2 linked regions of the Homo sapiens genome follow. The protein of the gene in region 2 purifies or fractionates together with the protein of the main gene of each other region. This does not show direct contact. Each region holds a gene or a part of one and is shown on either strand. Other genes may lie near its edges. The genes, in order: ZC3HAV1 and ZNF777.

The links.
Region 1: the proteins of ZNF777 (region 2) and ZC3HAV1 purify together in Homo sapiens (affinity purification with mass spectrometry; 2 studies listed by BioGRID and IntAct, with this or other methods). This does not show direct contact.

Annotation. Positions count from the first base shown.
Region 1 is NC_000007.14:139,039,900-139,052,682, forward strand, and holds the end of ZC3HAV1 (zinc finger CCCH-type antiviral protein 1), read right to left. Parts: intron 7,955-12,783; coding exon 7,695-7,954; 3' UTR 3,616-7,694; downstream 1-3,615.
Region 2 is NC_000007.14:149,428,658-149,440,640, reverse strand, and holds the end of ZNF777 (zinc finger protein 777), read left to right. Parts: intron 1-3,814; coding exon 3,815-4,066; intron 4,067-7,708; coding exon 7,709-8,865; 3' UTR 8,866-9,278; downstream 9,279-11,983. UniProt on the Homo sapiens protein: May be involved in transcriptional repression. Inhibits cell proliferation through CDKN1A/p21 induction by down-regulation of NIBAN1/FAM129A at low cell density.

The sequences.
Region 1 (12,783 bases), about 10 Mb from region 2:
CAGTGAGATAGAATGGGAGACGTCAGAGGAACTAACCTCCGACAGGAGGGGAGATGCTTCTTCCATTCACACAACAGGAAAGGAGACAAGGATTAGAGCATCTAAAGACAAGTTTGTAGGCTTTGTTTTGTTTTGTTTTTTTAAGTTTAAGGCAAAACCAAGAATGGATGGTGGAGAGTCACTTCAGGAGACCATAAAGGCTTGACAAAGCTGACTTGTGGAGAGGGGAGAAGGCTGACAGGTAGGACCAGTGGGCATGGGCAGGGCCTTACCAAGGCCACAAATTCGTAGTGGCATTGATCCAAACAGTGCTGCAATTCTCCTAAAAGCTCTCAAGGTGTAAGAACAGAATTTGATTGATTCACTTTTAGGTTTTGCCAGTGGGTGAGACTTAAGGTCAAAGGTTCTAGATGATTGAGGTATGAATTGAAAGAGTGATCAGGGGGCTGGGTGCAGTGGCTCATGCCTGTAATCCCGCCACTTTGGGAGGCTGAGGCAGGTGGATCACCTGAGGTCGGGGATTCAAAACCAGCCTTAGCAAAGTGGTGAAACCCTGTCTCTACCCAAAATTACAAAAATTAGCCAGGTGTGGTGGCACACGCCTGTAATCCTAGCACTTTGGAAGGCCGAGGCAGGAGGATCACTTGAGGTCAGGAGTTCGAGACCAGCCTGGCCAACATATTGAAACCCCATCTCTACTAAAAATTAGCCAGGATGGCAGTGGGTACCTGTAATCTCAGCTACTCAGGAGGCTCAGGTGGGAGAATCACTTGAACCTGGGAAGCGGAGGCTGCAGTGAGTTGAGATCACACCACTGCACTCCAGCCTAGGAGACAGAGTGAGGCGCCGTTTCAAAAAAAAAAAAAAGAAGAAAAGAAAGAGTGGTCAGGGGCTGAACAATGGGCTGGAGACTAGGTAAGGGAGGAGTGAAGACAGCAAGGGGCTATATGTGAGCAGAGAAAGACGACGTACGAAATGTAGGAGGGCCAGAGAGCTCAAAAGCAGGCTGGGGTCAGAGGTAGAATATAGAGGTTTGGGATTTCAGAAACAGCAGTTCTAGGCCATTTGCAGTGATTCGTGCCTGTAATCCCAGCACTTTGGGAGGCTGAGGCAGGAGGATCAGTTGAGGTCAGGAATTCAAGACCAGCCTGGCCAACATGTCGAAACCCAATCTCTACTAAAAATTAGCCGAGCGTGGTGGCAGGCGCCTGTAATCTCAGCTACTTGGGTGGCTGAGGCAGGAGAATCGCTCGAACCCTGGAGGCAGAGGTTGCAGTGAGCTGAGATCACGCCATTGCTCTCCAGCCTGGGCGGCAGAGCGAGACTCCATCTCAAAAAAAAAAAAAGCAGTTCTAGAGTAATTCTGACTGATGACAGTGGGGTGATGGATATTGGTACCCCGAATAGTGAGGACAGTGAAGACAGGTGTTAATGACATCTAAGGCTAGGGGTGTTGCATGGGTTGACCACAGTGAACACTGAAGGAAAAGGGAGGATTTTGAGTGGAGAGGAAGACTATGAGGCAGAGTGTGGAGAAGACTCCAAGAGCAAATGCAGGAGTTAATGGGGGAAGGGTGGGGAGGTGAGAGGGAAGAGGTAGAGACTGTTCCTACAGATACACACTTAACCTGCAGACTCTGCACCTGAACTTCCGGGTTTAGAATCTTGGTTCTCTTACTCAGTAGCCGTGACACTGCACAGCTTATCTGACTCCTCAGCAGAGGTATAGATCCTGGATTCAGAGTGTGTGACACTTGGATCTGGGAATAAATAAGACCATTCATGGGGAAGTGCATAGAGGGGTAAAAAGGAAAGATCCCAGAGCAGACTGTTTATTGAAGCATGTGGATTTTTCAGGAAGAAGAGGGTGACATTAGATGCCGGGCAGGTTCACAAGGGAATGAAAAAGAGAAAACAGGAGGTTGAGGTTGGGGGTGGTATTTTAGGATTGGAGCTTTTAAGGCTTAAGCACTTCCTGGAACGTTCTGATGTCTCCTGCCACTCTGATTCTGAAGCTCATTCTCAAGCTTATGGTCACTCAGGCACACATCTGTAGCACGAGCTTTGGAGCAAGTCACTCTGGGGACATGCACTGATATCACTGTTATAAATTCATCCGCTCTGGTCTTAACCTTCTAAATGAAACCTGCCTGTTATCCCCTGAACTCTTTCCAAGACATGTCTCAGAACATGGCCCCATGGCCCCAGACACACATGCTTAGCACTCAACTAAGTATTGCGTTTCATGGCAGTTCTCTTTATAGTAGCTAAGGTATGAGGGTATGAGTGGAAAGTGGTTGTTATTTAGCTTCATTTCTTTTTTCTTTTTTTTTTTCTTTTTGAGACAGAGTCTTGCTCTGTCACCCAGGCTGGAGTGCAGTGGCGCAGTCTTGACTCACTGCAGCCTCCACCTACCCGGTTCAAGCGATTCTCCTGCCTCAGCCTCCCAAGTACCTGGGACTACAGGTGTGTACCACCATGCCCAGCTAATTTTTGTCTTTTTAGTAGAGACGGGGTTTCACCATGTTGGCCAGGATGGTCTCGATCTCTTGACCTCGTGATCCACCCGCCTCAGCCTCCCAAAGTGCTGGGATTACAGGCGTGAGCCACTGCACCCGGCCATAGCTTCATTTCTACCAAATGCTGGACTGAGGAGTCCACCGGAAACTAGCGCACTATGACAACGTAAACAAACTCATAAAAAAAATAAATAAAAAAACTCCAGGATCTGCTCATGCTTGGTTTGATAGCATTTTTGTGTGTTTCAATCCAGGTGCTTTGACAGCAATGACTTTGCTACACCTTGCTTTATTTATATTGAGGTCCAAGTCAAATGGTAGTTTTACCTTCACTTTATCAAATCTCTGCTGCCATAGAACTTGCTCTCCCTCTCCATTTCCCTCCTCCCTGCTCCCTCTCCACTGAAAGCTTTGTGATTAAAAAAGATAATGAGGCCGGGTGAGATGCTCACACCTGTAATCCCAGCACTTTGGGAGGCCAAGGCAGGTGTATCACCTTAGGTCAGGAATTCAAGACCAGCCTGGCCAACATGGTGAAACCCCACCTATACTAAAAATACAAAAACTAGCCGGGTATGGTGGCGGGCGCCTATAATCCCAGCTACTCAGGAGGCTGAGGCAGGAGAATTGCTTGAACTCAGGAGGCAGAGGTTGCATCGAGCTGAGATTGCGCCACTGCACTCCAGCCTGGGTGACAGAGTGAGACTCCATCTCAAAAAAAAAAAAAAAAAAAAGAGAAGAAAATAATGAGTAGAGAAGGGCTTTTGGAGAAGGAATGGCTGATAGGGTAATTCTGCTTATCACCATTTATATTTTTAACTTTTGTGTCTCAGCCTGGCCCTGTTCACACCCCCGAGACTAAAGGAAGAAAGGTGTGTTAGCAGCTTTCAACCCTTCCCTCTCTAAATCCCCAGACAAAAGATGTGGGGGCCATCACCACCACTGTGCCTTGCCCAGGTGACTTGGTCATCGAACCCTGGAATGATAAAGCTGGAAGGGGCAAAACACATCATCTCTCTCCCATTGAATAACTGGTGTCTGCAGTTGATGATGTTTTGGGAGATACCTAGAAATAGATCAAATAAAGGCAGTAGAACCAAATTAATTACTTCTTTTTATTAGACAGTTCAAATTAAGCTTGAAGAACAGGAAGCAATACAACTCAACTATTGAAATACAAATAGTTGAGCTTAATTTATTCAACAAAATTTACCCAATATATCAGTGTACAAAGCATGCTGCTGGGCTGGGCATCAGGCGTGGCACAGCAAACAAGACAGACTGACTCAACCCTCAGGGGGCTTACATTCTAATGCAGAAAGCAGATAATTTCAGTTTGGATACATAATACAAATTATCAAAGCAAGGCGCAAAGTATTTTAAAAATAAGGGGTTTGGGAGGCCAAGATCTGACCTATTCTGTAGAAGGACTCCTTAGGAAAGTAACAGTTGAGCCAATCTAAGGATGCTAGATATTCAGTAGGTCAGTGGAAAAAATCAGTGGTTCTCACTGTGGTCAGTGGGTTATTGGTGGTTTCATAATAACTGGGGACTACTCCCAGCACTGAGTGGATGCAGCCAGGGAGAACGATGTCCTGCAGTGTGTGGGTTAGTGCCACACAACGAAGAATTATTCTGTACCCTGTACGACTGTCTAATGTCCTGCTGGACATTTAGGTAGGACCTACAGCTTGTCCGAGAGAGTAACTCATTTGTTTTCTCTGAGACAATCTGTAATTTGTCTTGTCCTATTATCCTTAAGTAAGGTAATTTCGCTCTTTCTTTTCCCATATACAGATTATGTACATAGTCTGTTTTGTCTTTACCCTAACACTGGTTTTCATTCTAGTGTCCCCCACCCGTCTAGTTTCATTTTCCTGTACTTGTTTACAGGAAGTAGCCTCTAATCGGCTCTTAAATCCAAACCTACTCATTACAAGGAAGAGTAAACATCTGTCTGTTTCAAACAGCGTAGTCATGCCTGAGCGTTTACATAATGAAATTCATCTTCTTTTCATTATAAATTTCTTCTTTTCTATTTCTCCTTAATAAGAGAGTTAGGGCATTAAATTGATTTTTTTAAGAAATTCATGTGTGTAAGTAGATTGTATTATCTATGAGTCATTTCAGGTCAGCAAAGAGAATGTTACAAAATATCTGCTCTGAAAAAGGTGAATAGATCTGATAGGGTTTGTGGTTGTCACCGTGACTGGGCGTGGGGGTGGGGGCGCTACTAGCATTTAGTATGTGAGAGCCAAGTATGCAGAACATCTTGCAATACATTGGACAGTTCCTCACAATAAGAAATTACTCTGCACCCTATACGAATTTTGAATGTCTCACTAGACATTCATGTATGACCTATAGCTCGTCTGCAAGAATATATCCTCATTTTCTCCACTTCGACAACTGTACATTTTCTTGCATAGTATCTTTATTTCAATAAAGGTTATTTCGTTCTTTCTCTTATATACAAATAAGTATTGTCATATGCAAAGAAGTTATTGTATCCCTAGTTTTTATTCTAATGCCCACTGATATCCCTGCTTTTACATTTTCCCACATATGATCTGATCTCCTACCTTCTAAGTTCAAATTGATGCATTATAAATAGTTGTAAGCATCTGACTACTTCATTAGGTCTTCAGTTACAGCTGTGCCCAAGTTAGGTACCTTTTATTTCCTCTTTATGTTCATATTAGTTTTATTTAATTTTTAATTTATTTCTAAAATTGTGTGTAGGTGGAGCATATTACCTCTGAATTGGATTTGGAGGATAATAAAGAAGATGTATTTCTATTTGTCGTTTAGAAAAAAAAAGGCAGAAATGCCCATTGAAAACCACTGAACTAGCTAAAAATGGGAACCACAAAACTGAAAGGAAGCCAGAGTGGCTTGCGCAGAAGAAACTAAATGATAGAGGGGTAGGGGAGGGAGAGATCACATGGGGCCATGACAGCGGTTTTGAACTTTATCCTGAAGACTTGATGTGTGTTTTGAATGTGCATTACTAAGTAAATTTTAAAAAATATAACCTTCTTGCTCTGAAGAAAACACAGCAAACAACTTAGAAGGGAACAGAGATATTTAAGAGGTAAAACTAGACTTAGAAACTGCTTAGATGTTTATCAGGAGGGAGAGGAAGGAGTCAAAGATGACTTCCAGATTTCTGCTTGAGCCAATGGGTAGATGGTGATGCTTTTCACTTACATACAGATCCTGAGAGAGGAACAGGTTCATGTGAGGGAGGTAGATGGAGAGTTCCACTTTGGACATATTGAATCAAAGATGCCTGTGAAATATCCAGCTAGTGGTGTCTAATGGGCTGTTGGAAAGAGTTGGACAAACTGCACCCCTACAATGTGAGGGTCAAGTTCAGAAAATGAACACTCCAAAACGAAAGTTACCATGAAAGAAATAAGTCAATGAGAATAAGCATTTGTAGTAACTCTCCCAGAAAATAACTCTACTCTAAAAAAACTATTTTTTTTTTTTTTTTTTTTTTTTTTTTTTACCGGTGGAGCTGTTTAAGCCAAGGAGTTGTGGAGATCTCTGTGATGATCCAAAATCTGACTAATATAAAATCAACTCTGATGCTAATTAAATCTGACTTATAACTTGTCTGCTAAAAGAAATTATAACAGGAAACTTTGGTGACTGGTAAGGAATGTTGAAAAGGGAAAATCAGAAGGAAAAACCTGGTTCATAAGAAGGAAGGAAATATTGGTCCAAGCACGTCAAGGGCTCTAAGTAAAAACCGATGGCACTACAATTCCACATAATCCATTACATTTGGAAAAAGAAGCTCCTGGTAGACACAGGGCCTCTTTGGGATATTGTTCTTTGTTCTGATTCTGTGCTCACCAGGAAACAAATTTCATCTCCGTAGGGGGCCCGTCCTTCAGTAGGAATGGCCCTGCTCCTAGGTTCTTGGCTCACTTGCCAAGACTACAATAGCACTCGCGTTTATCAGTTATGCTTGTGTGAAGCTGGTTATTGCAATTCATTGTTCTCAAAATACTTTCATGAAAAGCCTGACCTGAGAAAAAGCCTTCTCTGTAATCATATTAATTAGAACATAAATGTCTACTTTGCCATAATTATACAAAGAGCCCAAATGGGCAATTAACTCCAGTTGGTTGCTTCTCTCTGAGCCTTACTTGCCAGCTCTTATTACCGCATTCCAGAGAGAGTCAACCTGGATGGAGTTTGTCCCCTAAATAAATGTAGCGATAAAGAAAAGGGTGCTCCAAATCAGTTTCATCAGAATGATAAGGTACAGTACTGCAGCCATGTCTGCAATAGCACTTCAATTTTACTTTTTTTTCCCCTAGCATGTCCTTAAGCATTTTCTCCCCAGCTTTTCACAATCTTTCTTCTAAGGCTGTAATGTCTTACATCCTTAATAGGCATGATTAGATTTCTCCCAAATTTTCCAAATTAACTTTCTTTCAATGTAACCAAAACAAAACCATGGCATACAGTAAACTAAAAGGGTAGACAGGAGAGAAAGGTTGCTGCAATTACAGAAAATTTAGAAATCAGCCTTTACCAGTTACATCTGAGACAAGGTAAACTTTCCAACACATTGGAATCATCAGAAGGGCTTTAAAAAATACAACTGCCAGCCGGGCATGGTGGCTCATACCTGTAATCCTAGCACTTTGGGAGGCCAAGGCGGGCAGATTGCCTGAGCTCAGGAGTTTGAGACCAGCCTGGGCAACACAGTGAAACCCTGTCTCTACTAAAAAATACAAAAAATTAGCTGGGCGCGGCAGTGTGTGCCTGTAGTTCCAGCTACTCGGGAGGCTGAGGCAGGAGAATTGCTTGAACCCGGGAGGCAGAGGTTGCAGTGAGCCGAGATCGCGCCACTGCACTCCAGCCTGGACGATGGAGTGAGATTCAGTCTCAAAAAAAAAAAAAAAAAAAAAAATACAACTGCCTGGCGCTGACGCCCAGAAATGATTTCATTGGCATGGGGTGCAACCTGGGCATCAGAATTTGTTTAAAACCTCCCAGATGATTCTAATATGTAGCAAAATTTGGGGACCACTGATCTAAGACATTAGATAACTGAGCAGGAAAATATAAAACTTTAACTCCTGTCTGCGGCAATTTAGTTCTGTAAAGGAACAGAATGGTTATGGCATCCTTCTGACGCTGTATTCATCGGTTCTAACTAATCACGCAGGCTTTGTCTTCAGTATATTCAATCACATATTGTGGGTAAACCTGATCTTTCTGAAAGATGACAAAAACGGAGGGATTCGATCTGGTATCCACACAGCTGTCGAACTGTGGAGGAGGGCTCGTGTACGTTATATTTCCTTCAGTAAACTTTCCAACCAGAACTTGGGCTACAAACATAACGACGTTTTTGGCATCATACGGGCAATTTTTGTGGGAATAGATGGCATCTTTTGCAAAGTAAATTCCTAGAAAGAATCAGAAAGAAAAGTTAAGAAATATTATAAAAGAAGGTATACAGTTTATAAGATTTGTTATATACAGTCAGATGGGTGTGGACTAAGCATATGTCAATAATACCTTACTGATATTTATAAACTTTCCTTTGCACTTAAAAACATGTTAATGATGCAGGCGAACTTAAATACAGTATATAACCCTATAGAAATGACTGAGGAATATTTGCTACAGTGCAGAGCTCATGCTGATAGTGTGAGCCATTGGGTGCAATGACCAAATGACAATGTCACAGTGGCCCAATTCATGCAATTCACCCAGTGTGAGCTGAATGAGCAAACTTGGAACTGATGAGTCAGTTGATGCTTCGTCCTCAACTCTAAAACAACCTCAGATAACGATTGCTGCTTCCATACACAGCAGACCAACAATTTCCTGCCAAGTTAAAATTTTTATTTTTATCATTGTCAAGTGCTACTCTGGGCAGGTGCAGTGGCTCATGTCTGTAATCCCAGCATTATGGGAGGTTGAGGCGGGTGGATCACATGAGCCCAGGAATTTGAGACCAGCCTGGGCAACATGGGGAGACTCCATCTCTACAAAAAATTTAAAAATTAGCCGGGCATGGTGGCGTGCACTTGTAATCTCAGCTACTCAGGAAGCTGAGGCAGGATTGATTGAGCCCAGGAAGTTGAGGCTGCAGTAAGCTAGGATCATACCACTGCACTCCAGCCTGGGCAACAGAGTGAGATTCTGTATCAAAAAATACTAATAATATTTTCTAAGAAAGCTACTCTGTCGTTTTAAAGACCATGAGTAGATATTGCAACTCCTATTTCCATGCAAGAATCAATAAGTAAAATGAATTGTTTTACTTGTGGTAACAAATGTTTAATATACTTCCCATCTACTTTGTTTTTGTTCTTTTTATCATTTTATAGTTAGATGTTTGAATTCCAGAAACATTGCTTATCCTGAATAGGTCAGATACTAGATATTCTGTGCAAATGATGTTCTACTATATTTAAAGTAAAATATGGAAGTCTACCTATACTGACCTACGACGTCCAATCCCACTCCCCTTCCCAAAACAGTTTATGGCTGGCGGGAATTCTTTCACACCTGTTTCTATGCATTCACATACATATATGTGCATATGGTGGTTTATGGTGGTTTACTTGTTCATAAATAGGATCATAATATATGAACTGTTCTACAACTTTTTTTTCCACTTTAGTCCTAGAAATCTTGCTATGTCAGTACATCCAACTCTCTCTCTCTCCTTTTTTTTTTTTTTTTTTCGTTGTTGTTGTTGTTGCTGCTGTTTTTGAGACAGGGTCTCTGTCACCCAGGCTGGGGTGCAGTGGTGCAATCTTGGCTCACTGCAGCCTTGATATCCTGGGCTCAAGCAATCTTCCCACCTCAGCCTCCCATTCTAATCGGTGCGAGGCAACAGCTCATTGTGGTTTTAATTTGCGTTTGCTTGATGATTAGCGATGTTGAGCATTTTTTCATGAACTCATTGGCCATTTGTATTTCTTCTTTTGAGAAATGTCTATTCAAGTCTTTTGCCCATTTTTGAAACTTTTATTTGCATGTATTTTACGCTGAATTTATTCCCGTGCTGTAAGTTTTTGCTTCTTCAGTATCTTCTAGGATAGCTTTTTCTTCTGTGCACCTCCTCTTCTGGTTTAGGAACACGGTGTGCTTCTTCAGGAAGATTGTCTCTATGTGGCAGGGGGAGCTTAGGCATGAGTTAATCCAACCATGAGCTCTGGAAGTCTGGTGGCACATCTTGGGTGCTTTGTGCGCCTGAATATCCTCGACGACCAGAGAATCTACAGCTCAACCCTTACGTTCAGCATTACTCTCTGCATTTTTAAGTGTGTACAGCAAGAATTCAATTCTTTTGGGGTCACAAACTGCGTGCCCAGCCCCACTGTTTGGTCTGGGCACTCCTACCAACTCCACCCTCGTAACGTTGGAATGGTACACATTGTTTCCATACAGTGACATCTTTCAGACATTTGCTGGCTTTTCATATAGGCGTACTCTTGATGGCCTGGGCAGTTTCATGGGTGTCCTTAGAGTGAACATGAAGATTTGAACCTCTTTATTTGCATGATTTCATGGAGTTTTCTGGGTCAAGTGAATAGTGAACCATTTTCACAGATCACCGCAGGCCACTTATGGGAACAGCTTGCACATTTTAAAATTGAGTTATTTGTTCTCTTGCTGTTGAATTGTTTAAGTTCCTTACATATTTTGGATATTAATCCCATATCAGATGTATGGCTTGCAAATATTTTCTCCCACTCTGTGGGTTTGTCTGTTCACTTTGTTAATTGTTTCCTTTACTGTGGAGAAGCTTTTTAGTTTGATGCTATCTCATTTGTCCATTTTTGTTTTTGTTGCATCAGTTTTTTTATATCACACTTATATAATCTGGAATCTATATTTTCTTTTTTTAAAATTCCCTTTATTGTGTTAAGAAAGTTCATTTCTATTCCTACATTTCTGAGTGCTTTATTTTTTTCTTTTTTGAGACAGAGTTTTCCTCTGTCACTGAGGCTGGAGTGCAGTGGCAGGATCTCAGCTCACTGCAGCCTCCCCTTCTTGTGATCAATCAACTCTCATGCCTCAGCCTCTCGAGTAGCTAGGACTACAGGCATGTGCCACCACGCCCAGCTAACTTTGTATTTTTATTAGAGATGGGGGGGTTTCACCATGTTGGTCAGGCTGGTCTCAAACTCCTGACCTCAGGTGATTCACTCACCTCGGCCTCCCAAAGTGCTGGGATTACAGGAATGAGCCACAGTGCCTAGCCTAACATTTCATTTTTTAGGATAAATATTTGTTTGAATTCTAACATAGGATAGACCTGTAAGAAACTGATGGGTTTTAATTTCACCTATCATATGTCACTTAAGATGGTTACTACATTTCCCATTTCCTCCAAACACTTCTAGGTAAGTTTCACTGATACATTTAAACTTAATAAACTTATGAAATCTCATCAATAAATTCATTCCCCAGCTTAAAACCTTTCATTAGTTTCCCATGCGCTTACAGTCAAGTTTAGCTCTTTATGGTCATACCTTGTTCCATTTCTCCCTTCTCCGCCATGTGGTGACTCTACAAGGCAGGGGAATCCTACTCTATCTCTATCCTTGGGAACACCTCTCTAGCTGGGTTAGTTGTCCACAGGACCTGTTCCTTTTTTTCTTTTTTCTTTTTTTTTTTTTTGAGACGGAGTCTCGGCTGGTGTGCAATGGCATGATCTCAGCTCACCGCAACCTCTGCCTCCCGGGTTCAAGCGATTATCCTGCCTCAGCCTCCCAAGTAGCTGGGATTACAGGCATGGGCCACTGCACCCAGCTAATTTTTGTATTTTTAGTAGAAACGGGGTTTCACCATGTTGACCAGGCTGGTCTTGAACTCCTGACCTCAAGTGATCTGCCTGTCTCGGTCTCCCAAAGTGCTGGGATTACAGGCGAAGCTGCCGCGCCTGACCTGGATCTGTTATTTTTCTCTATAGCAGCCCAACATTTGCAATCATTTAATTTTTTTTTTTTTTTTTTTGAGACAAAATGTTGCTCTGTCGCCCAGGCTAGAGTACAGTGGCACAATCACAGCTCACTGCAGCCTCAAACTTCTGGGCTCAAGCAATTCTCCCACCTCACCCTGCTGAGTAGATGGGACTACAGGCATGTGCCATCATGCCCAGGTAATTAAAAAAATTTGTTTGTAATTAAAACAAAAAATTAGATAAGGTCTCGCCATGTTGCCCAAGCTGGTCTCCAACTCCTGGGCTCAAGTGATCCTCCCACCTCAGCCTCCCAAAGTACAGGAATTACAGGTCTAAGCTACCATGCCTGGCCACAGTCATTTAATTAATTATGTAAGATAATTATGCAAAATGTGTTTGGGGCCATGTCTAACTTGTTCACCACTGTGTACCCACCATCTAGTGTACAGAAGACACTCAAAAATATTTGCTGACTGGCTGATTGACTTCTTGCCTTTTGGGGCAAGAATTGAATTTAATCCTAGTTGTATGAGTTGAACTCACTTTGAATCTGTGATAAACTATTACTTATTTCCTAAAGATGACTGATTCTTAGTTTTTTTTTTGTTTTTTTAATTTTCTAGTTTTTATTTATGAAGTTAATTCCCTCAAACATTAAGCTAAGTGTGAAGTGCAGTTTTTAGTAAGCTTGCTTATTAGTTAAAAATGGACAATAAACATTTACATTCATAAATATTTCTCTTTTTTTCTTTTTTTTTCATTTTATTGTTATTTTACTTTAAGTTTTAGGGTACATGTGCACAACGTGCAGGTTTGTTACATATGTGTACCTGCGCCATGTTGGTGTGCTGCACCCATTAACTCGTCACGTAGCATTAGGTATATCTCCTAATGCTATCCCTCCCCCCACCCCCCTCCCCTCTGGTTTGTTTGTTTTTAAGAGTTGCATGCAGGCCAGGCGCAGTGGCTCACACCTGTAATCCCAGCACTTTGGGAGGCCAAGGCAGGCAGATCCCCTGAGGTCAGGAGTTCTAGACCAGCCTGACCAACATGGAGAAACCCAGTCTCTACTGAAAATACAAAATTAGCTGGGCGTGGTGGCACATGCCTGTAATCCCAGCTACTTGAGAGGCTGAGGCAGGAGAATCACTTGAACCAAGGAGGTGAAGGTTGCAGTGAACCGAGATCGAGCCATTGCACTCCAGCCTGGGCAATAAAAGCGAAACTCTGTCTCCAAAAAAAAAAAAAAAAAAAAAAAGAGTTGCATGCATCCAGGAGCAGTGGCTCATGCCTGAAATCCCAGCACTTTGG
Region 2 (11,983 bases):
CATGCCTGTAATCGTAGCTCTGTGGGAGGCCGAGATGGGAAGATCACTTGAGTCCAGGTGTTTGAGACCAACCTGGGCAACATAGGGAGACCTCGTCTCTACAAAAACTTTAAAAATTAGCTGGGCATGGTAGCACTTGCCTGTAGACCCAGCTACTCTAGAGGCTGAGGTGGCAGGTGGTTTGAGCCAGGAGGTTGAGGCTGCAGTGAGCCATGATCTCACCACTGTACTCCAGCCTACGCAACAGAGCAAGGCCTCATCTCTTAAAAAACAAAACAAAACAGTCACTTCCTGCCCATCTCCATCTTACTATAAAGCATTTCTCAGAGGCATAAAGCCCCCAGGTCACCAAACAGAAAACATTCAGAATTTTAAGATACATGTCCTGCAGCGTGTCACTCTGGGGCCTGGATGGCAAGTTCTCTTGCAGCTTAGGTTGTTAGCAATATTTTACCTTTAACAAAATTGAAAGAACCTAATCATGTTGTGAGCTAATAGGTCATTAGAAACAGTTTTTGATGATCATGTTGACCATGTGATCTTCGTGGCATATAATTCAGAAGTTCAGAATTGAGTGACAGTTCCATAACAAAGCTTCTTCCAGCCCATCTACATATTTATGTAAATGAGGTTTCCCAATGTAAATGAGGTTTCATATATAAAAATGAAAAAGACTAAAATTGATTCTGAACTGTACATTCTACAATAAGAATATTGATTTCTAGATAAGTAAACTAATTAGAAAAAATTTCTATTCATCCTTATAAGAGATACATTTCCCAAAGTTTCTTTATTTTCTATCTTGGATAATTATTTATCATTCTATAGTGATAATCACTAAGGATAACTTAAGCCAGAAAAAAAATGAACACTTAGAGACCTGTGGTTATTAGAAATGAAAGCAAAATTAAACTTTCAACTTACATACACATTTTTGTGGCAGAGTGGCAGAGGAAGTGATCAGTAAAAGGCTTCTAAACATACAAATATGTTCTATTAGGATAAAATTCTGTGGGCAAAGTGGGAATAGAAATAGAAGTTCAAGGTGAAAAGGAATGATATAAAAATTCCAGCTATCAAAGAAGAATTTGTTCATGTATTTTTAAGTGAATAATGGTGGGTTTAAAATTGCCGGGGTTCTTAGATTCCATTGGTGACATTAAAGGGTGATGGAAGAGTTTATTTCAAAGTATCAATATTTACAATACTCCAGAAATTACATCTTTTGCAGTTACTGATGCATTTTATATGTTTATTCAAAAAGGTGCAAAGGAGTACATAGTTTTAAAAATCATTTTAAGGTGTAAGCAAGCAAAATATTTTAAGTAGTTTGTGAAGTCAGGGAAGTTTTCCTGATGCTAGAGTCGTGGTCATGTTTGTGGAGGGATCATAACAATTTAGCGCAGAGACAAGGATTGAAGACAGATGGGAAAAGGCACACAACTAATGGAGCAAAACTCCAGGGAGAAAGAAATGGGCAGGGCTAAGGAAACAAGCAGAGGAGTTCAGTGACAGGAGGAGGGAAGAGAGACATTACTTTCCCTGAGATTGGAGAGAAAAGGGAGGTAAAGATGGTGACTTTGAGCCAGTGTAGGAAGTAGGGGATGGAGGTATGGATGACTTTTTCTTTTCCTTTTAATAGAGAATAGGACACAGACATCTTTGGAGAGAGTGGGAGAGTTCCACAGTTCTGAGGGAATCAAAGGTCTTCATTTAAGGCTGTGGCGGGGGGGTAAATGAGAACATTAGAGCTGCTTTATATTCCATCCACTTCCAAACCAGTTGAGTTGGTGAATCAGAGAGGCATTAAAGGAGTGCCGCGCATCCGAAGGAATCCAGCTTAGGTCATCTAGCACCCATTTTCAGCCTGATGAGTTTGTCTGATTTCTTAGTAAGGGAATGAATGGATTTGGCAGAGGAGCATGAAGAGCCTCAGGAGGGCAGGACTGAGGCTGCTTGGTTCATTTATCTCCTGGCTTCTTTTCTCTTTTTCTCACAGCACTTGTCACCTTCTAACATACAAAGTAATTTATTTATTGTGTCTACCACCTTATGTAAGGTCTATGTTTTTTTCACTGGATATATCAAAAGCCGTTAGACCACATGACATGTAGTTGGTGCTCAGTGTCTGCTAGTAAACATTCGATGAATGAATGAATATGTGTGTACATGACATATTCTATTGTCATTGCAGTAAACATTTGTTCACCATAGCAAAACTCTGGGAACAAAACGTGAATGTTCTTCTGTTAGGGAAAGAATGAATAAGCCACGGTATTATCCTGACCATGGAATATATACAGCATTTTTAACAGTGTATTAGCACTGTAGAAATTGATTTGAAGCCAGGTGTGGTGGCTCATGCCTGTAATTCCAGCACTTTGGGAGGCTGAGGTGGGCAGATCACTTGAGGCCAGGAGTTCGAGACCAGCCTGGCCAACATAGTGAAACCCCATCGCTACTAAAAATACAAAAAATTCACGCCTGTAATCCCAGCACTTTGGGAGGCTGAGGCGGGCGGATCACGAGGTCAGGAGATCAAGACCAGCCTGGCTAACACGGTGAAACCCCGTCTCTACTAAAAATACAAAAAATTAGCCGGGTGTGGTGGCGGGTGCCTGTAATCCCAGCTGCTCGGGAGGCTGAGGCAGGAGAATCGCTTGAAGTTGGGAGGCGGAGCTTGCAGTGAACCGAGACCACACCATTGCACTCCAGCCTGGGCAACAGAGCGAGACTCCGTCTAAAAAAAAAAGAAATTGGTTTGAAGGGATTTCTACAAGATATTTGAGTAGAGGAACACAGAAGAGGCCAATAGTGACAAAAAAAAAAAAAAAAGAAAAAGAAACAAACATATAAATGTGTATGTGTTGTTTAGAATAACAACATAAGCACAGAGAAAAGTCCTGGTAAATTATAGGAGTTACCTGGGAAGTCATAGCGGTGAAATGGGAAGTAAGGGAAGGGGAAGGCAGATTAGATGGAAAAAAATACTGCACTAAAAACCAAAAATGTTATAATCCCATTTATGTAAAATGACACCTATGTATGTAATGATACATTTGAAATTAATCTACAGACCTATAGGCAAGTTTAGAAACAAATTTCAGGGCAGTGCGTAACAGGATGCTATTTAACTAAAAACAAACCCAAATGCCCATGGTGTACATGCATACGTGCTTGGGAATGTGAGTGTTTTTTGGACACCTCAGGGTATGGGGCCGAAGGGTGGGAGTGGTCAGGAGGTAGCCTTTTCTTCATCGACCTGATTGTGAGTGAGCAGATGAGAGAGAAACTGTGTTAACTGTACCGGTTGGCTGGTCTGACTGAGAAAGGGAATGAGCATCTCTTTAAAATAAACCCTGGCTGGGCGCAGTGACTCATTCATGCCTGTCATCCCAGCACTTTGGGAGGCTGAGATGGGAGGATCATGTAAGCCCAGGAGTTCAAGGCTGCAGTGAGCTATGATCACACCACAGCACTCGAGCCTGGGTGACAGAGTGAGACCTTTCTCTATTGAAAAAATAAGAGTAAAAATAAACCCTGACAATGCTGAATATTTTTTTTTAATTATGGAGCTCATGGAAAACAAACTTTGCATCTATTTTAACTTGACTACAGTTTGTATTGGTATTCAAAGCTACAAGGTGTCCAGAAAATTCTGTGTCTACTCATTTCCAACTCAATATTACATTTCTTCAGGGTCTCTAAGATAAGACTTATTGAGATGTAAATTGTAGGGCTGCAGAAACCTGGGCAGTTGGCATGAACATTCTGGGTTCTTTTCTCCTCCTCACCCCTGCCCACCCTCTCTCAGCGCACGATGGGATCGTGATTAAGATCGAGGTACAGACCAACGACGAGGGCTCAGAAAGTTTGGAGACACCTGAGCCCCTGATGGGACAGGTGGAAGAGCACGGCTTCCAGGACTCAGAGCTGGGTGACCCCTGTGGGGAACAGCCAGACCTGGACATGCAGGAGCCAGAGAACACGCTGGAGGAGTCCACGGAAGGCTCCAGCGAGTTCAGCGAACTGAAGCAGATGCTGGTGCAGCAGAGGAACTGCACGGGTGAGTGCTGGGCGGGGACGGCCGGGGAAGGGTTGCCATGAGGCCTCCCAGAGGGCCCCTGCCCCCTGGGAAAGCTGTGGTTCCTTCAGAGAGGTAGCTGGACACTGATGGGGCAACAGGTGGGAAAGAATTACCAAGCACGGCCTCGAGTATAGGCTCCGTGACGCGGGACTTGTAAGAATCCGTCTCCAACCTAGGAAAGAAGTGGTTACATCTAAAGACTGGTTCAGGCAAAGGGATCTCAGAGCTCACCTATCCCACCCCTCATTTTACAGACAGAGGTTAAATAGATGGGGCAAGGCCACACAGAGAGTGGCAAAGCTAGAACTCTCCCAACGTGTCCTTGATCATCTCATATCACCCTAGAAGCCTCAACTACCTTGAAGATTTCAGCCCTGGAGAGCATGGTTTTCAAATAACAATAGCACCGGCATTCTGTGGTCGAACCTAGTCTTCATTTTTGTTTAATTATAAAACTTTATCACCATGCTGCTCACTCTTGCTCCTTCTGAGTTCAAGAACAGTAAGGCACTGGGGCTCACGGTGGCCTGATCCCAGGACATCTTTCGTGATGGATTTTCTGATGCTGAGCCATCCTGGCAGGCCCGGGAAAAGCCCTACTTGATCATCATGATGTATTTTTTGAATTCACTATTGGACTTAGGTAATAAATATTTTACTCAAGTTAGACAACTGTATTCATAAATGAAATGAACCTTTTCTTGAATTATTCTCATCTAATTTTGGAAACAGTATTATACTGGACATATCAGATGAACTGGGCAGCTTTTGCTGTTGTTCTGTATTCTGAAAAAAAAATAGGAATTGAGTGTGTTCCTTGAAAAATTGGTAGAACCCACATGGACTTTTGTTTTTGTCTGGATGTTTCGTTTATGTGTGAGTCATTCACCATTACGTTTGTATTGTATTTTCATATTTAGAAATAGATCCACATCCATTTCTGTTTTTAAAAGTATTATATTGATGTAAAGTGTTTAAAAATTATCTGTAGATAATTCCTCTATAATTTGCCTTTTTGCACTTAATAAAATACCCATGGTATTTTATTAATGACCATCTCGTTGGTCAAAAGATATGGATCTAGGCCCAGGGCAGTGACTCACACCTGTAATCCCAGCACTTTGGGAAGCAAAAGCAGGAGGATTGCTTGAGCCCAGGAGTTCATGGCCAGCCCAGGCAACATAGGAAGACCCCATCTCTACAAAAAAATTAAAAATTAGCCGGGAATGGTGGCGCATGCCTGTAGTCTCAGCTCCTTGGGAGGCTGAGGTGGGAGGATTGGTTGAAGCTGAGAGGCTGAGGCTGCAGTGAGCCATGATTGTATCACTGCACTCCAGCCTGGGTGACAGAGCAAGACACTGTCTCAAAAATATGTACATATATGGATCTACCACCTTATTTTTAAGTAACTCCATGGTATTTCAGAAGTGTTTTTGACATACCATGCTGTCTTTCATAACAGAATAGTGAAAAGACATAAGGTAAATTCTGAGTATATGCTAAATTGGGACCATCATCGTATAAACTCTATTGCCTTTTGAGCAGTCCCCATTAATTGTAGTAGAACTTTAGAAAACTACTAAACAGTAGTTTGTGGAGTTTTGAGTCTTGAGTTTTAGGGCCAAATGTTTGGCGTTTACCATTCCATGAAGAAAAAAGCACCTTCGGCCAGGAGCGGTGGCTCATGCCTATAATCCCAGCAGTTTGGGAAGCTGGGGCAGGCGGATCGGATCACTTGAGGTTAGGAGTTCGAGAGCAGCCTGTCCAATGTGGTGAAACCCCATCTCTACTAAAAGTATAAAAATTAGCTGGGCATGGTAGCAGGCACCTGTAATCCCAGCTACTCGGGAGGCTGAGGCACGAGAATCGCTTGAACCCAGGAGGCAGAGGTTGCAGTCAACCGAGATCGTGCCACTGCACTCCAGCCTGAGCGATAGAGCCAGACTCAGTCTCAAAAAATAAATTAAAAGAAAAAAAGAAATAAGCACCTTTGATGCTCAAGGAGAGTTTAGTGCTTCTCAGGATCTATTTTCCCCTTTGCCTTTCAGACATACTCAGTATTTTCAGGATAAACACCAGGGCAACTAGTTACCACACTCTGCAGCTGCCTGCTCCTTGATCTTTTAGGCATCACGCTCCAAGGATGTTCTGGGTCGCTTCTTGCTGAGAATCCTAACACTACTGAGGCAGCCTTGACTCAGCACACCTGTGTCCTAATTTTACCACTGTAGTTCACTGGCTGTAGAGGAGGCCAAGGAAGTGCTAAGGACAGGGAGTCACTAGCAACCTTACAAGACGTTGGCTGGGTCACAAACATTGCTAGCTTCAGTCCATGTTACTTGAGGAGGTAGACCAGGTGGGTCCCAACCTGCAAACTCTAGAAAGGCCTAGGACTTCATTTTCTATTTGGAAACATCACTTGATATCTCTGGGCTTGGATGACCCATCTGTAAAATGGGGAGAATTCTTGCTTGACTCGTCCTATAATAAGATACTGTGCTCATGAAAAAAAAAGGACAGGTATGAGTACTCTGAAAAGGTCTTGTTGGTTTTTAATTATTCTGCAAACACAGAATTTTTGTGTCTTCTGTCACAGATGGGTCCAGAGAAGTGACTTTCTTATGTCACACAAAGCTGGTGACTAAAAATAGAACTCACCAGTTAGTGCCAAATAAGTACAAGGCACTTGAGAAAACTCAAACAGGAGTCGGGAGCCACTTCTTTTCTCTAAAACTTACATTATCATAAAGGACCAGGCTAGAGAGTTGAGGGGGCATCCCCGGGTGGGGCATGCACTGCCTGCACCTGATCCAGATTCAAGGGTGGTCGAGTCTGACTGTGCCGGTGCATCTTCCACCCATGAGAGGCTGCAAAAGGCTGGGTTCCTGATCCCTGGGGTGGGCACCAGTGAGTACTGTGGGCTCCAAGGAGGGGTGGAGTGCTGTAGGTTTTGATCACCAAGGCAGACATGGAGAGGAGAGGGAAATTTCTGGAGGAAGGTGAGGAAAGGCACCAAGAGGAGAAATCTCCAAGTGGATTAAGAAAGAAGTGGGCCGGTCTGAGCAGAGTTCAGGCAGAGATGTCCTCAGAGGGGCAAAGACTGAGAACCTTAGGAGTGGAGACCCTTTGGTACAGCTGGTAGAAACCCAACCTTTAAGTAGCCTAATGGAAAAAGGGGTGTGTATCGCTCATATAATTAGAGAATCGTGAGTATTCCAGCATCAGGCATGGCTGGATCCAGGTGTTCCCACATCGGCTCTGTGTACTGGTTTCCTTCTTTCCTGCTGGGTCCGGCTGTACCAGCAGTTTCGCATCATAACCAACAGGAAGCGATTTCCCCTGCGGTCCTCTGTATAAAATCCAAAGAGGACTCTTTTTAGCCCCTTTTAAGTCTGGACTCATTCCTGAAGCAAACAGCAAGGCCAGTCTGGGTTACGCGTCTACCCCGTTGGGGGAGGGGAGCGGACCAGGGGACGCAATGAGGGGACTTTTCCCAAAAGAAGGAATTTGGGCCAATAATGCAATGTTTTGGTGAGGGTGAAGCAGTGCTGTACCTCCATCCAGGTAGGTTAGGGGCGCCAGGCAGCAGCTAACGACTTTCTCTCTCTGTCCCTGGAGCAGAGGGGATCGTGATCAAGACAGAGGAACAAGACGAGGAGGAAGAAGAGGAGGAGGAGGATGAGCTGCCGCAGCACTTGCAATCCCTTGGGCAGCTGTCCGGGAGATATGAGGCCAGTATGTACCAGACCCCGCTGCCCGGGGAGATGTCCCCCGAGGGCGAGGAGAGCCCCCCGCCCCTGCAGCTAGGAAACCCCGCAGTGAAAAGGCTGGCGCCCTCCGTGCACGGTGAGCGGCACCTGAGCGAGAACCGCGGGGCCTCGAGCCAGCAGCAGCGGAACCGGCGCGGCGAGCGGCCCTTCACATGCATGGAGTGCGGCAAGAGCTTCCGCCTGAAGATCAACCTCATCATCCACCAGCGCAACCACATCAAGGAGGGGCCCTACGAGTGCGCCGAATGCGAGATCAGCTTCCGGCACAAGCAACAGCTCACGCTGCACCAGCGCATCCACCGCGTGCGCGGAGGCTGCGTCTCACCCGAACGCGGGCCCACGTTCAACCCCAAGCACGCGCTCAAGCCGCGTCCCAAGTCACCCAGCTCTGGTAGCGGCGGCGGTGGCCCTAAGCCCTACAAGTGCCCCGAGTGCGACAGCAGCTTCAGCCACAAGTCCAGCCTGACCAAACACCAGATCACGCACACGGGTGAGCGGCCCTACACGTGCCCCGAGTGCAAGAAGAGCTTCCGCCTGCACATCAGCTTGGTGATCCATCAGCGCGTGCACGCGGGCAAGCATGAGGTCTCCTTCATCTGCAGCCTGTGCGGCAAGAGCTTCAGCCGCCCCTCGCACCTGCTGCGCCACCAGCGGACTCACACAGGCGAGCGGCCCTTCAAGTGCCCCGAGTGCGAGAAGAGCTTCAGCGAGAAGTCCAAGCTCACCAACCACTGCCGCGTGCACTCGCGCGAGCGGCCGCACGCCTGCCCCGAGTGCGGCAAGAGCTTCATCCGCAAGCACCACCTCCTGGAACACCGGCGCATCCACACAGGCGAGCGGCCCTACCACTGCGCCGAGTGCGGCAAGCGCTTCACGCAGAAGCATCACCTGCTGGAGCACCAGCGCGCGCACACGGGCGAGCGGCCCTACCCCTGCACGCACTGCGCCAAGTGCTTCCGCTACAAGCAGTCGCTCAAGTACCACCTGCGGACCCACACGGGCGAGTGAGCGCGCGCCCCGCCGCCGCCGCCCGGCCAGGTGCGCGGGCCGTGCCCCCCCTCGGACACCGCCAGGCCCGAGCCCAGCGGGCGGGGGCGGGGCGCCCCCCAGCCCCTTTGCCGTGAGCTCCCCCTCTCCTCTCGTCCCTCCTCCCAAGGACATGGGGGCAGTGAGACCAGGTCCCTTGCTGCCGCGTTTCCCCGGGGGCCCCAGGGGGGAGGGCGCGGACCTGGGGAACCCTTTCGGGCTGTTAATTTCCTTGACAATAAAATGGATGAAACCAATCAGCACGGGGGGCGTGATTTGGCCGCCGGCCACTCAGAGGGGCGGTGTAGGGCCCATCTAGTTGGGGATAGAACTTTATAATTACCTTTTGGATACTGTGGTTCTATTTGATAATAATAGAGTAATTTTTAAAAGAAGAGCGTTTCCTGTTTGCCGTTTTTGTTTGGTTTGAAGGGGAGGGATTGAGAAGGCCGGAGGGACATACGCTAGTGTCAGTTGACAGGTTCTGTTGGGACCCTTTTTTGTGTTCCTTCTCCATTTGGGTGGTGAGGGAGACGCTGATCCCGCCGGTTCTGAAATGGAGGAGGAGAGGCAGGACTGACGTCTAAGGGACCACGGGAACCCCAGACCATCGCGTCTGCCCTGGAGTCCATGAGGTTGCTGGGAGCTCAGGACTGAATAGGTCCCAGTTGACTAGCGTGGTCAAGGAGAGTGACGGTCAGGTTTGGAATGAGCTGGAAAGAAGGTCCTGTAGCAAAAGCTGGGCGCTGCCTTCAGTGCCCAGGCGTTCCTGCGTAGCTTGAAATGCAGCTGGCTGAGGAGTAGGGTGGCGGGAGGGAAGCCTAGGGAAGAGGTGCAGAGGCCCCTGGTGCCAGTCTTTGCGGAAGCCACAAAAGGCACCAGTCAGAACATTTTTTATTTGAATGTTGCACCAAAGCTACTCTGGACTTGCTGAACGCACTGACGAACCCTGGTTTCTCTAGGTATTCATTCATTTCCCATCTCCCTCCAGCTCTCTCTTATAGAAAGAGAAACTGCAGGAATATTTATTACGTTGCCCACAGAGCGATTTACTCTGCTGATGGGTTTGGCAGTGGCCCAGAGAGAATTCAGGCCATTCGAAGGGATAATTCATGGAGGCTAGCAGAGTGCACAGCTCAGCCTCGCACACTGGGGAAGCTGGGCTGAAAGCAGAGAGACTGGCCTGAGAGGAGAGCACTGCTGAAGCCAGGCCTGTCAAGTTGTGACAAGATACTTGAAGGGGGTTCAAAAAAGGGGATTTGGAGGAAGAAGGTGATACACTCTTGACTTTCAGGAGACCATAGAGATCATCAACTCCCTCTGCTTTGTATAAAGAGTTTGTAAGCTAAGCACAGAAAGGGGAAGTGATTGATAGCACAAGATCTCACATGTGAAGCTTCTCCATTTAGACTGAATTTCTAAGTCGATGATAGGACATATAGGGATGGTGGCCAGAGGAGGGAGCAGAGGTCTGGGCTGGTGTAAAGGACTGAGGGGCAGTTTCCACCAAGACCTGAAGCATCAGCTGCGAGGCTGGTGCAGATACGTGGGCAGGTAGTTCCGTAGTGTGCAGCCAGCTTCACCAGTTGCCAGGCAGAGGGGGCCTGCAGGAGGACAGCTTCCCCCAGGAGGTGGAATCTGAGCTGGGCCTGCGGGATGGAGAGGATTTCCATACATGAGAAAAATGAGGAAAGCTTTCTTGGTGGGGGTGGTCATAAAAGGAAAAGTGTGGAGAGTAGGCTGCATGTAAGATCAGGATGTAAGCAGTGATGGATTAAACCTCAGCTGGATGAAAGGGCCTGTCTAGGAAAAACAGGGCCAAATGTTGGTTTGGAGTAGACTAGGGGTGCAGAAAGGATCTAAGACTTCAAGGCTGCAGACTTTGAATTGGATCTTGTAGGAAAAACCATTGAAGATTGCTGAGTAGGAGAGAGAGATGATACAAATAGCTATCCAGGGACTGAATCTGGTAGAAGGCAAAGAAATCTAACAGTCAGGTGTGGGAGAACCAGCTCAGTTCCACGGACGGGTTGCAGATAACAGAACCCGTGGGTGGAGGTTGAAGGGATGGCAGGGGAAATGGTTCTTTTGAACGTGAGGATATTTGAAGTCTCAAAGAGTTGTTAGTGGAGGAATTTGGGGAGGTATTTGGTAGAGGGCTGTTGCTGCCCTAAATTTTTACTAGCTCTGGAATTGGAGGACCAAAGAGTGCTGGAAATATCCACCCTGAGTGGAGACGGAGGTGCTGTGGGGTAGAATCCATGTGGGAGACTCAGAGAGGAACTTCATTTGTTACATGAAGTTAGCAGGACATTATGGGGTCAAATGAGAATGGTGCTTGAGAGGCTTTCTTTTTCTAGGAAATCTGGGTGGTTTTTGTTTCGTTTTGCTTGTTTTCTGAGACAGGGTCTTGCACTGTCACCTAGGCTGGCATGTGGTGGCACCATCATGGCTCACTCTGACCTCAACCTCTTAGGCTCAAGCAGTCCTCCTGCCTCAGCCTCTCGAGTAGCTGGGGGACTACAGGTGTGCACCACCACACCCAGCTAATTTTTTTTTTAACTTTTTTGGAGATGGGGGAGTCTTTCTGTGTTGCCCAGGCTGGTCTCAAAACTCCTGGCCTTAAGCCATCTTCCCACCTCAGCCTCCCAAAGTGCTGGGATTACAGGTATGAGCCATAGCTCCCATCTGAAATTTGTTTTTTAAAAGGATTAAACCAAATATAGTCAAAGATTGGTATTTCTTTTTCTTTTAACTGACAATTTATTGCACCAACTAGAACAGCCTGGTTCGTGCATCCTTACGTCTCTGTCTATTGGGATACCATTTAAAGTCTTTCAGAACACGTCATAGTATGTCAAGATTGGTTCATCTTACACGTAGCTGGGCTGCCATGACTTCCCTGACTTCTACCTCCCCTTCCTTGGCTCTGACTCCCTCCTCATGCCTCTTCCTAAGTGCCCAGCACCCTGTGCCCCCCATCGTCTCTCCCCTTGTTCTGACTTCTTGCCACCATCTTGAATCTCACTTTCCATTTGCCCTAATCTCTGCTATTGGTTCCTAAAGTGTAGATAGCCTTTGGTGTCAAAAAGACGTGGCT